Regions from separate parts of the Homo sapiens genome. Here regions 2 and 3 are each linked to region 1. The links come from fine-mapping of genetic effects on gene expression. A gene starts in region 1. Each other region holds a variant in brackets. All regions are shown on one strand. Distances are between the middles of the regions.

Region 1 (4,244 bases):
CTGAACCCTTCAGTCGGCCCAAGCAGCTCCACACCCTGAGGTTTCCAAGACCAAAGCTGCGAGTCTCAGCAGGGAACAGCCACGTGGCCTGCCTGCGCCTCGCCTGGGCTCTTGCCTTCAGCTTGAGATATCTGCAGCCGCGAACCTTGCTCCAGCCCAGAAAGGGGCGCTTTGCTCAATTAATTGTTCCCGCCGGCGAGTCCGTACTGAGAAGCCCATGAGCGGACCTTATGTGCAGGGTACTCCAGCGCGGTGCACAAAACTCGTCGCCCCCAAACGCTGCCCCCACCCCAACACTGTGTACTGACTCCAGCTTTTTACTTTGCCATGTAAGGGATGGACCTGAAACGGTTATTTTACCTCAATTCATTTCAAAAAGGAAACAAGTATGGCATTGCAAAAGATGGGCTTCTTATCCAAGGCGACTTCCTTTCTGGTTCACCAACTTTGCTGCTTCCAGTTTGCCAGGATCTACATTAACACCCTCTTTGGGGCTCTTCGTTTTAACTTACAGACAGAAATGCTTAAAATGTTAGCGTATCCAAGCATTTGGAATTGGGGCTCACGAAGCCTAATTGTCCACTGGATGCCCTAGATAGTGGGGGCTGGGGCGGGGGGGGTCTCAGAGCGGGCAGCCCCTATGTCTAGGCGCTATCAAATTCCCACTTCACTCTCTTACAAGCTGGCCTTTCAAGGTCACAATGCGGAGCCTAATTTGGGGGTGGGGATGAAATGGCCACAGGGTCTCTCCCTTGGGTTGGCATTGCCAGCTGTTAGGGCCGCAGCAAAGGCGCTGCGCTGCCCCCCTCTGGCTCTGCTGCCTTTCCCATGGACTGGGTTTCCTTCCACCGAAGAGTGAACTTCTGCCTCTTTCGAGCACCTTCCGAGGCGTAGTCCTTTGGATGTTGGGGAGCGTCAGACTGGGTCGTTGTAGAGGGGAAAGGAGGGCCCAGAAGGGCGAGAGAGCAGGCCGGGACGCAAATCCTCAGCCCCCGCGGCGCGGCCACGTCTTCAGAAACGCCCAGGACCTCCGGGCTGGGCCGCCGCGGTTTGGCCTTTGGAACTCCAAGGGGTTCGTCTACCTGACCATTGGGTGGGCTCCGCGGTTGACACTTTTCTTGGCATGCCCCCCCACCCCGCGCCACACCACCCCCCCAGCCCCAGCAATCCCAAATCGGCCCCACGGACCTAGAGGGCTCTTGGGCGAGATGAGACATCACCCACTGTGTAGAAGCTGTTGCCATTGCTGCTGTCACAGCCACTCCGGATGGGGCTGCCACCGCGGCCAGGACAGTCTCCTCCGACCGCTTCCTGGGCTGCGCTAGGGTTCGGGGGCGCTGCCCGCACGCTCCGGCGGGGAAGGAAATCGCCCCGCGCCCGCCGGAGGAAGGCGACGGGGAGGGAAGGGGGAGGGCGGCTAGGAGGCGGGTGGAGGGGCCGGCCGCCCGGGCCAGGTCGTTTTTGAATGGTTTGGGAGGACGAATTGTTAGACCCCGAGGAAGGGAGGTGGGACGGGGGAGGGGGACTGGAAAGCGGAAACTTTCCTATAAAACTTCGAAAAGTCCCTCCTCCTCACGTCAGGCCAATGACACTGCTGCCCCCAAACTTTCCGCCTGCACGGAGGTATAAGAGCCTCCAAGTCTGCAGCTCTCGCCCAACTCCCAGACACCTCGCGGGCTCTGCAGCACCGGCACCGTTTCCAGGAGGCCTGGCGGGGTGTGCGTCCAGCCGTTGGGCGCTTTCTTTTTGGACCTCGGGGCCATCCACACCGTCCCCTCCCCCTCCCGCCTCCCTCCCCGCCTCCCCCGCGCGCCCTCCCCGCGGAGGTCCCTCCCGTCCGTCCTCCTGCTCTCTCCTCCGCGGGCCGCATCGCCCGGGCCGGCGCCGCGCGCGGGGGAAGCTGGCGGGCTGAGGCGCCCCGCTCTTCTCCTCTGCCCCGGGCCCGCGAGGCCACGCGTCGCCGCTCGAGAGATGATGCAGGACGTGTCCAGCTCGCCAGTCTCGCCGGCCGACGACAGCCTGAGCAACAGCGAGGAAGAGCCAGACCGGCAGCAGCCGCCGAGCGGCAAGCGCGGGGGACGCAAGCGGCGCAGCAGCAGGCGCAGCGCGGGCGGCGGCGCGGGGCCCGGCGGAGCCGCGGGTGGGGGCGTCGGAGGCGGCGACGAGCCGGGCAGCCCGGCCCAGGGCAAGCGCGGCAAGAAGTCTGCGGGCTGTGGCGGCGGCGGCGGCGCGGGCGGCGGCGGCGGCAGCAGCAGCGGCGGCGGGAGTCCGCAGTCTTACGAGGAGCTGCAGACGCAGCGGGTCATGGCCAACGTGCGGGAGCGCCAGCGCACCCAGTCGCTGAACGAGGCGTTCGCCGCGCTGCGGAAGATCATCCCCACGCTGCCCTCGGACAAGCTGAGCAAGATTCAGACCCTCAAGCTGGCGGCCAGGTACATCGACTTCCTCTACCAGGTCCTCCAGAGCGACGAGCTGGACTCCAAGATGGCAAGCTGCAGCTATGTGGCTCACGAGCGGCTCAGCTACGCCTTCTCGGTCTGGAGGATGGAGGGGGCCTGGTCCATGTCCGCGTCCCACTAGCAGGCGGAGCCCCCCACCCCCTCAGCAGGGCCGGAGACCTAGGTAAGGACCGCGCCGCTGCACCCCTTCGCCTCTCAGGTGGCAGACGGCAGGCCGGCCAGGCCGCGGTTCCCAGTCCACCTCGATTTCCTCCCCTCTCCCACTCTCCGCTCAGCCTTCCCACCTCACTTGGCACCGTTGCCTCGCGCCCCCAGCGTCCCCGGAAGGCCGGTCTGACCCCGCTAGGGAGAGCAGTCTCCAGGGGGATGCGCCCTGGTGAGGGGTGTGTGTGCGCGTGAGTGTGCGTGACAGGAGGGGAGACAGAGACACCCAGGGTCACGGGTAAGGACCGTTTTGTCAGCGCCACCCTTTCTTTCGGCTTTCAATTTTTGTTCTCCTTAAAACAAATGTTTTAAAACAAATTCCACCTCCTCCTCCTTTCCACCCACCCACTTCCTCTTGCCCTTGGGCTGAAATCCTTCCAGGTTGTTCAGCTTAATTTCTCAGTGGTGGTGATAAGAACAGTGCTCACTAGTCTTAGAAAACAGCCGCAGAGACCTAAACAATAACCGACTCCCCCCCCCCCCTCTGGGTTTTTGCAGATGTCATTGTTTCCAGAGAAGGAGAAAATGGACAGTCTAGAGACTCTGGAGCTGGATAACTAAAAATAAAAATATATGCCAAAGATTTTCTTGGAAATTAGAAGAGCAAAATCCAAATTCAAAGAAACAGGGCGTGGGGCGCACTTTTAAAAGAGAAAGCGAGACAGGCCCGTGGACAGTGATTCCCAGACGGGCAGCGGCACCATCCTCACACCTCTGCATTCTGATAGAAGTCTGAACAGTTGTTTGTGTTTTTTTTTTTTTTTTTTTTGACGAAGAATGTTTTTATTTTTATTTTTTTCATGCATGCATTCTCAAGAGGTCGTGCCAATCAGCCACTGAAAGGAAAGGCATCACTATGGACTTTCTCTATTTTAAAATGGTAACAATCAGAGGAACTATAAGAACACCTTTAGAAATAAAAATACTGGGATCAAACTGGCCTGCAAAACCATAGTCAGTTAATTCTTTTTTTCATCCTTCCTCTGAGGGGAAAAACAAAAAAAAACTTAAAATACAAAAAACAACATTCTATTTATTTATTGAGGACCCATGGTAAAATGCAAATAGATCCGGTGTCTAAATGCATTCATATTTTTATGATTGTTTTGTAAATATCTTTGTATATTTTTCTGCAATAAATAAATATAAAAAATTTAGAGAACCTTAGAGTTTGGTCTATATTTTTAAAACTAAAGATTAAGTTGGTGGTAAATACCTGCTTGTTTAATTCTAGAGGCACCCAGGAGGGAGGGGGCACTAATATAAACAAAGCAATGAAAAACTCAAATAAAGCAGCTACTGACAGGCACAAGCATGTTATTTTAAAAGACAGCTTTATTATTATTCCAGTTTGGTATTCAGAGGGCTTAGTAGCATCTCTTCATCTCTTACTGTCTCCAAACAGCAAAAACTTAACAAATTTGCTATTCACCTCCTTTTTATTTTGAGGTGATAGTTGTTAAAACAGTTAAATGCAAATAAGGAGTATAAAACCTGCACTATTCTCTTATTATGTACTTTTTGTCATGCTCTTCACTCTTTGTGAAGATTCCTAAATAACAGGTTCTTTTCAGTGAAAAC
Region 2 (4,244 bases), 260 kb after region 1:
TTGAAGGCAATGAGGGACTTTCCTTGCCTAAGATGTGTCACGTAGCCAGTAACATTTCTGACTAATTCTGAGATATTGCCCAATGTGTCTCTGAGCTAAGAGTTGAGAGAGAAATTTTTCTCAACAGTATCTCTTCCTGACTTTGGGACATTGTCTGTGAGAATAGTATTAGTGTATTTATATTATTATATTTGGAACGCCTCTGAATAGAGAATGATGCCACCTCCCTAGGCAAAATCCTATACGCAAGCATAGGGAGCTGGGCAAAATGGTAAGATTGCTAGTTTATCAAAACAGATAAACTGATTCTTATCTAATTACCATATATAAAACAATGACAACAGAATTAACAGATTTTGCTTTCGTTAAACTCTGTACTGAAATCTAGTCTAGAAAGAAACAACAAAATGTTGAAACATGCTTAGTTTGGAGTTGGTAGAAGTCATTAAGAGTTAATATTAAAATTGTACTGAAGTAAACACTCTTTTGCTGAGAAATGTAGAATGTAATTATATATGTCCCTTCCCAGTCATTATTGTATAAAAGCATAGAAATACCGTGAATTTTAATATGCCAAAAATGTGTCTTTAAGTTTGCAACAGTGGTTCTCAAGAAATATTTTATTATGATTTCAAATGTGAGTCCAGTAACATAAAGGGGCTGTTATGTATTTGGTTTCATAAGCATTACTAAATCAGTCTTTCCATATTTGTAAGGACTAGAGCTGGAAAGGATCAGTAGTCCCGACTTTGCTCTGCTACTATCCAATTAACAAAAGACCACATCCTAGAGAACTGAGGCTGAGCTACAAGGGTGTGGAGAGCGGGCAAGGGTCTTTGCCAGCATAATGCACTAGAACTACTGATTCTTCTTGAACCCCTTCAAAATTGCCTGTGATTGCTCAATAAAATACACCCTTCCTTATAGTTCCAGTGGGTGCTGACAAGGAGGTCAGCTCCATAGCAACTTTTAGTTTTATCTTATGCCTACCTTATTACTCCTTCCTCTTTCCTTCCTTCCTTTCTTCCGTCTTCCTTTTTTTCTTTCCTTTATTTCCTTCTAATTTTATCCTCTTTTAGCCCAATTTATTCTTAAAGGACAGGAAAAGAGTTTAAGACATTGAGAAAAATTTGACACAAGTCAGAACAAAGTATTTAACTTTGTTTCCTTATATTAAGACCAACTGGATAACCAAGGAAGAAAGTATATTTAAAGAATAACATAATCCTCATGGTTTAGGCAAGAGAGGCAGAACAAGCCCCTGCAACATGTATCTTTCCAAATCTTTGTTTATTTTCATTTCTATAGCAACCTGGTGGTTGTAAAACATTGCCATAATGAATAGAAAATAGAACACAAATGACAGTAAAATGTTCTTAAAACTTACATAGCAGAGAATTATTTAGAAAATTTGGAAAGGCTGATTTTTTTTTCTCAGTTGGGCACATAGCAGGAAAAATGTCTACCCAAGTCATTAGTAAATTTCCCCTCCAGAGGGACAATAAGATGCTGGTGACACGTGCACTTTGGAAACTTAATTATGTGCCTATTTTTTGTTATTACTTTCTTTATCCAAAAAATCCCTAAAGAGATTATACTACCATCAAATCAGTCATAGGGATTTCTCTCCTTTCGGTGGGGTGCAGTGTGTAGCTTAGTACACATATTGCATTTCCCATTACCCTATGAGCAGCATATTCTTTTTGCAAAGTTTCAAATGAGCCTCTCTTTAGTCTTTGCACAAGTGATTGCATTCCATAAAATATTATTGCATAAAGCCAAAGGACTTTGGCTAAAAATTAAATTCAGTATTCCAATAAAATCATATATATTTCTCTCTCTCTCATTCTCTCACATATATATATATATATATATATATATATATATATATATATATATATATGAGAGCGTTAGCCTTTATATTTCTTCTCAAGAGGAGAGAAAAAGAAGCTTTGTAGGCATAAAAATAAGGAAAAAGAAAGGTCAAACATTACTGTAAGTAAATGTTCTGTGGTTTATAGAATTCACAAAACAAATTACAGCATGACATCCTTTTCAAGGAACTGTTTGTGTCTTTGGAAAAAGTGTGTATTATTTTTGGTTAACTCTACCTTTTGATGTGGCCTTTCTGAGGAAGGCAGCATCATCAAGTTTTTTTTTTTTTTAATTGCGTA[G/A]CAATGTGAGATGAACAAGACAAAAGGCAAGCTCATTTAGTAACACATTTTACTTGTTCCCTGAGGCATAGCCAGAAAGAGACTGAGAAGAAAGAAAGAACTTGGGGCCTGAATAGAGTTCTGAAGTGCAGAGTCAGGCTGTCTTCTCAATCAGGAGATCAGCCCAAGATCTAGGAGTGTTACATGTATTCATAGCTAAAATAACAGGAGAGTAGGATTAATTCCAAAACTAAAAAAATAGTTTATGTTGGAGGCAAGGAAACTCTTTTCTTCTAGCAACAACAACAAAATCATCAACCATTTTGACAATGTACTAGGTGCCAGGCATGAAGTTAAGAAGTTTATACATTCCTTCTAATGTTGCAATGATCACAATATACTTGAAATTATGTACTTTGATCCCAATTATAGACAGTAAGACTAAGACTCAATGAAGGTAAGATAATCAGTCAAGTTGTTTCAGCAAATAACTGACTGACTTGGGATTCAAACTCATATCTGTCTGAATCCAAAGATCACGTTCTCGGAAGCTTGACAATTTCACTGCCTTTTAACTGCATTTTTGGATGAAAAAATAGTGTTTCTAAGTGCTCTGATTCAATGAGGCAATGAAGGCATATCATGTGTATTGAAGCAATCACTTCAGTGTTTCTGTGAGTTAGAAGGGAAGTAGGTATGCCACTCAAACTTCACAGGAGATCAGGACATGGTAAAAATGAGACACTGCTGTCAATATTTATTCAGCAGCAACTTATTTCCAGGTACAATTCCAACTGCAATGTTCACTCCACAAAGTACGAAATTTCCATGGTGACATGATAGAGTAGTTTTATTATTTAAGATAAAAATATACTCTGACTAGTTAGACTATGGGTTGTCACTTGGATTAGCATGAAAGCAATTTCTGAGTAAAGTACATTCAAACATTCTAGATAGGAAATGTTAACATAAGCTGATTTGGTTACTTTGGTGTCCCCACCCAAATCTCATATTGAATTGTAGTTCCCATAATCCCCACATGTCATGGGAGGGACTAGGTGGAGATAATTGAATCATGGGGGTGATTTCCCCTATCCTGTTCCTGTGATATTGAGTTCTCATGAGAGCTGACGGTTTTATAAGGGGCTTCCCCCTTTGCTGGGCACTCATTCTCTCTCCTGCTGCCTCGTGAAGAGGTGCCTCCCACCATGATTGTAAGTTTCCTGAGGCTTGCCTAGCCATGCAGAACATGCAGCCACGTGAGTCAATTAAACCTCTTTCCTTTATAAACTACCCAGTCTAGGGTATTTCTTCACAGCAGCCTAAGAATTGAGTAATACATTGATTATCCATTTTTCCAAATATGCAACCATGTGGATCCATATGCACAGATAGCTAGCTTTCTCACTGATTATTTTCATTTTTTGAAAAGGGAATGTTATGGTGGTATTTCGACACTGCTGTCATGATACTGTGACATGCTAAATGAACCACTAAACAGCCGGCAGAATCCAAGATTTCAATGGATAAACATTTGAAAACTAATTTTCTTTTGTGCATGTGTATTTGTTTTAGACCAAATAATACTCCACAGTTATTAGTACATCAGTACTGTACCCTCATATTTAAAAAATTAGCTTGTTTTTAAAAATCTTTTCAAGTAGCAGATATTAGATAAATATTTTCAAATTCCCATTGAAAATGGGAATGTCACATTCCCATTTGAAAACAAAATAGCTGAACCCAACTTTGTCAAGTTTGTCTTTTCATAGATTTTTTCATTTATTAATTTATTCCTGGAACATTCATTGAACATCTACAGTGAATCTCAATGCCAAGGTGCCAAGTGCTAGATTTCATAATGTCAGGACAGATTCCTATGATTCCTATACTTAACAAGTTCAGATGGCATGGATGAAGCAACTCTGTAAACAAATTTCTTCCAGTTCAAAGGGATGCGTTCATTAATACAGATATTGATTTTTTTCTCCCAGTTCAAAACAATAATTACTCTAGAAACTACAGCTATAAATGTGGACATAGAAAATGAACTTATTAATTATTCTGGAGAACAGAGACAAAACTTTATAG
Region 3 (4,244 bases), 490 kb before region 1:
TTCCTATAATGGAAGGCTAATACATTATTTAAAAAGTGAGGAATATGTCTATGAACTGATATTGAGAAATTTCATAGGATGTATACATTAGATAAACAGAAGCAACAGGGAAAGGGCATCTATTGAACACTACCTTTTGTGTGAACACAAGCTCATATGTATGTCTGCATATTTACTTCTAGATATCTATCATCACTGTATGCTCATTTTTCAAGAAGACATGCAGTAAGGATAAATTAGCCACTGATAAAATTGTTTACTTACAAGAAGTGATTAAGAATCCAGAGAAAGAGATTGGGAAGGAAATTGGATTTTGAAACATGTTAATATTTTACATAAGCAAAAAATAAAACTATTTCAACAAAGGGAAGAAATCCTAAAATTCAATATAAACAGAAACGGCCTATAACTATGTATCAAGGAGATAACATATTCACTTAGATAGAAAGACTAAAATTTATCCAAATAAGTTTTTCATATGATAATTTAACTGTATAATTCCAATGGTATATATTCTAAGGACAAAAAACATTAAGGTATCTTGAGCTTTCCTTATTAGGTTTATTATTTGCAGTGGTACTAACACAGAAATTCCAACACTATTTTGTATTTATTGTAGAATTGAGAAAATAAGTTATTATATATTGATATTGTTAATATATTAGGATTTTTTTGCTGTAGAAGAAAAAATACAATTATGGAATAGGAGAAAAAGAAGAAACATATTGTGGTGCTAGAATTGGAATTGGGAGTATCTGTCTACAAAAAGGATCTAACAAAATGGCACCCTAGTAGCAATAATAATTCCTAGCTTACCAATATCACTTTTGACATATCATTTTACACTAAAAGGAACAAGAGCTCCTTGGAGAAAAGGCTGATTCCAGATCGAGAGCAGGAAGGTTATAGTGTGACCCTCAACTATCCCGTTGTGCCAGGAAATAAGAAGAACCTGGAGAACTAACAGAGACATATCCTGAGGAAACCGGCATTAAGAGTCTTTCACTGGCCAAATTTGGGACAATTTTTTGCTTCAAAATAAATACTTACAGAAATAGAATTACACACACAAAAAATCTACAAATCGATACTGATTTTAAAATAGATGAATTGGGAAGGGAAAATTTGAGTAAATGATTTTTTAAAGAAGACAGACTAATAAACGTTGAAGAAACTGTATTTATCAATTATAAAATGCTAAGTAAATCTTTACCATGAAGAAATCGTATCTTAACTAATCAAACTTAACATAAACAGTTATGGCGAAGAGTGATATCATGTACTCCCAATGTGATAAATTGGGAAAGACCAAATATTACTAACATAAAATTTCTGCCAAAAATGTTTCTGCTTACTAGGAAATTACCTAACAAGGCCAAAATATGTGTCAATCTGACCTTGATTCTTCAAAAATATCAGTTTCAAGAAAGACATAAAAAATGCTGATGTCTTCTAGATTATAGAAGATTACAGACATCACAAATAAAATGCATGATTCTTGAGTGGTCATTGAATTAAATGAAAAACAGCTTTTCCCTAAAAAATGGTGGAGTCAAGACTTTTTGTGTGTCTCAGCCAGTTGGAAATAACAAGATTGTACATGAAGATCAACTTTTGAGTTTTAATTTAAGAAGAAAGACACGAATCCACCAGAATCATGAAGATATCCCAGATCTCAGGGAGAACAACAGGGACAAAGAGCCCCTGTGATGGTATCCAGGTGATAAAAGGAGATCTCTAGGCATTGGCAGCACACTCTCACCTGGATCAGCAGCCTGAGCCACCCCACTCTTCGTGTGCATACATCGTGGTGCAGTGGGGTGCTCTCCACTACATGACCAGGAAGATATCCAGGCATTCAGAGCAACTACTTTCCTAGTTCAGCAGCCTTAGCCACTCCACCCATCCTAGACATATATCATGGTGTGGTAGAGCCCTTTCTGCTCCATGGCCAGGCAGATCTCCAGGCATGCAGAGTATCTGCTTACTTGGATAAGCAGCTGGAGCCACCCCACTCTTCCTGTGCATAGATCATTGTGCAGTGGGGTCCACTCCGCTCCATGCCCAGGCAAATCTTCAGGCATTCAAAGGACTGGCTTGCCCTACAATTCCTGTGCAGAGATCCTGGATCCAGGGTGGGGTGAGGGTCCCTCTCTTCTTCATGCCCTTGCAGATCTCCAGACATTCAGAGTACCTGCTCACCTGGATAAGCAGCCCCACCCTTCCAGTGCACAGATCATTGTGCAGTTTGGTCCAATCTGCTTCATGCCCAGGCAGATCTTTGGGTATTCAAAGGACCAGCTTGCCCCACAATTCCTGTGCAGAGATCCTGGC[G/A]CCAGGGTTGGGAGAGGGGCCTTCTCTTCTTCACGCCCTTGCAGATCTCCAGGCATTCAGAGCACCTGCTCACAAGATTCACAGCCTGAGCTGCGCTACCTTTCCTGCATAGAAACTGCGGTGCACCAGGGCCTTTTCTACTCCATGCCCAGGCAGATCTCTAGTGATTCAGAGCACCCACCTGCCTGAATGAGTAGCCTGTGCCACCTATTTTTTCTGTGCAGAGATTTTGATGCACTGTGGCCCTCTGCACTCCACCCTCAGGCAGATCTCCAGGCATCTAGAGTGCCTACCCTCCTGGAATAGCAGTTTAGGCCACCCAACTACCTGTGCAAAGAACTGAAAACTAAGTAGGTTGCCCAGCTCTATGCCTAGACATAATTCTGAGTGATTGGTAGCACACCCACTGGATTCTCTCTCAGCACTGGTGCTTGTGCTTGCCATGAGGGAATATGTAGGTGGTCCTGCCCGGTCTAACCCTTGCCATCTTGAGCCCCACTCCCTTGGGCTGAACAGGGAGCTCAGACTTCTGTGCAAACCACAGATCAGCCTGTGGCCTGAGACAACAGATAGTTCTACCTGGTAAACAAGAATCAAGTACATACCTAGCCATGTTGGCTTCAGCTGGCTATTACCCATAAATGTTATATATTGACTTGCAGGTTGAACCATACAGCCTAATATAAAACCTGCTGAAAAACCTGAATAAGGCTATAAAAGCAAAGCCAAAAAACTCTAATCAACGTTCTCTAAGGTCACACCCCCAAGGGAGGGGGTGGGGTGAAAGGTAAAGGAAAAAATATACTGAAAGAAACAAATTCTCCTCGCACAAAAATAATTACCAAAATTAGAAGGGCCAGCATATCCAGATGAAAAGGAACCAGTGCAAGAATTGTGGCACCATGTAATACCTGAAAAAAAAAAAAGGATCATACTAGGTCTCCATCAGGAAATGAATAAACTGATATATAGCTTTAAAAAAAAGCAATTGGAGATTTTGGAATAGAAAAACTCATTTAAGGAATTTCAAAATATCAGTGAAACTGTTATCAATAGAGTGGACAAAGCAGAAGAAAGTATTTCAGAGCTTGAAGGCACGTCTTTCAAACTAATTCAGTCAGACAAAAAAAAAGAATAAGAATAAAGCATTAAAAAAATGAAAAGTCTTCAAGAAATATGAGATTCTATAAAGTGACCAAGCCTATAAAGTGTTGGCAATCCTGAGAGAGGAGAAAAAACAATTTCAAAAACATATTTTAGGAAATACTTCAAGAAAATTTCCCTAATCTTGCTAGAGATGTTGACATTCAGATACAATAAATCCAAAGAACACCTGTGAGATACTGTATGAAACGAACAACAGCAAGGCATAAAGTCATCAAACTATCCAAGGTCAATGATAAAGAAAGAAATCTTAAAGGCAACTAAAGAAAAAGGTCAGAAATGTACAAAGGGAATGTTATCAGGCTAACAGCAGAGTTATCAGCAGAAATCTTACAAGTCAGGAGAGATTGAGGTCTATTTTCAGCATTCTTAAAGAAAATACATTCCAACTGAGAATTACATATCCCACTAAACTAAGCCTCATAAGCAAAGGAAAAATAAAATATTTTCCAGAGAAGCAAGCAATAAGGGAATTTATTACCATTAGACCAGCCCTCCTTAGGGAAGTTCTAAACATGTATATGAAAGAATGATACTTGCTACCATAAAACACACTTAAGTACATAGTCCGTAGACCCTATAAAGCAACCGCACAATAGAAACTACAAAGCAACCAGCTAACAACTTCACAATAGGATCAAAATGTCACATATCAATATTAACCTTGAATGTAAATGGTCTAAAGGCCCCATTTACAGGCAGAGTTTCAAATTGGATAAAAAAAAAAAAAAAAAAAAAAAAAAAGA

Direction of the effects. Positions count from the first base shown, and alleles are read on the strand shown. Sizes are in standard deviations (SD) of each study's normalised expression. Not every link is listed here.
In carriers of allele A in region 3, the expression in tibial nerve of the gene that starts at base 1,657 in region 1 tends to be higher than with G alone (small effect, 0.32 SD a copy in GTEx).

What was found. PIP is the estimated chance that this variant, and not a neighbour inherited with it, causes the effect. A credible set is the group of variants that fine-mapping cannot tell apart.
Region 2: its variant is the best candidate, but not a certain one, in a credible set for the expression of TWIST1 in tibial nerve (GTEx, PIP 0.76).
Region 3: its variant is the best candidate, but not a certain one, in a credible set for the expression of TWIST1 in tibial nerve (GTEx, PIP 0.64).

What each region holds. Positions count from the first base shown.
Region 1 is chr7:19,115,049-19,119,292 of GRCh38, reverse strand. It overlaps TWIST1 (twist family bHLH transcription factor 1), which reads left to right and starts at 1,657. Exons shown (of 2, transcript NM_000474.4): 1 at 1,657-2,622; 2 at 3,162-3,825. The coding sequence starts at 1,972. The coding sequence ends at 2,580. RefSeq lists enhancers at 1-510, 1,584-2,367, 2,391-2,650.
Region 2 is chr7:18,857,471-18,861,714 of GRCh38, reverse strand. All of the region lies in intron 21 of HDAC9 (histone deacetylase 9), which reads right to left. Among named protein-coding and RNA genes, the nearest start is that of HDAC9-AS1, 42 kb to the left of the region's middle. The variant G/A (reference allele first, on the strand shown) is at 2,175.
Region 3 is chr7:19,600,742-19,604,985 of GRCh38, reverse strand. All of the region lies in intron 3 of LOC105375180 (a long non-coding RNA gene), which reads right to left. Among named protein-coding and RNA genes, the nearest start is that of MIR3146, 100 kb to the left of the region's middle. The variant G/A (reference allele first, on the strand shown) is at 2,335.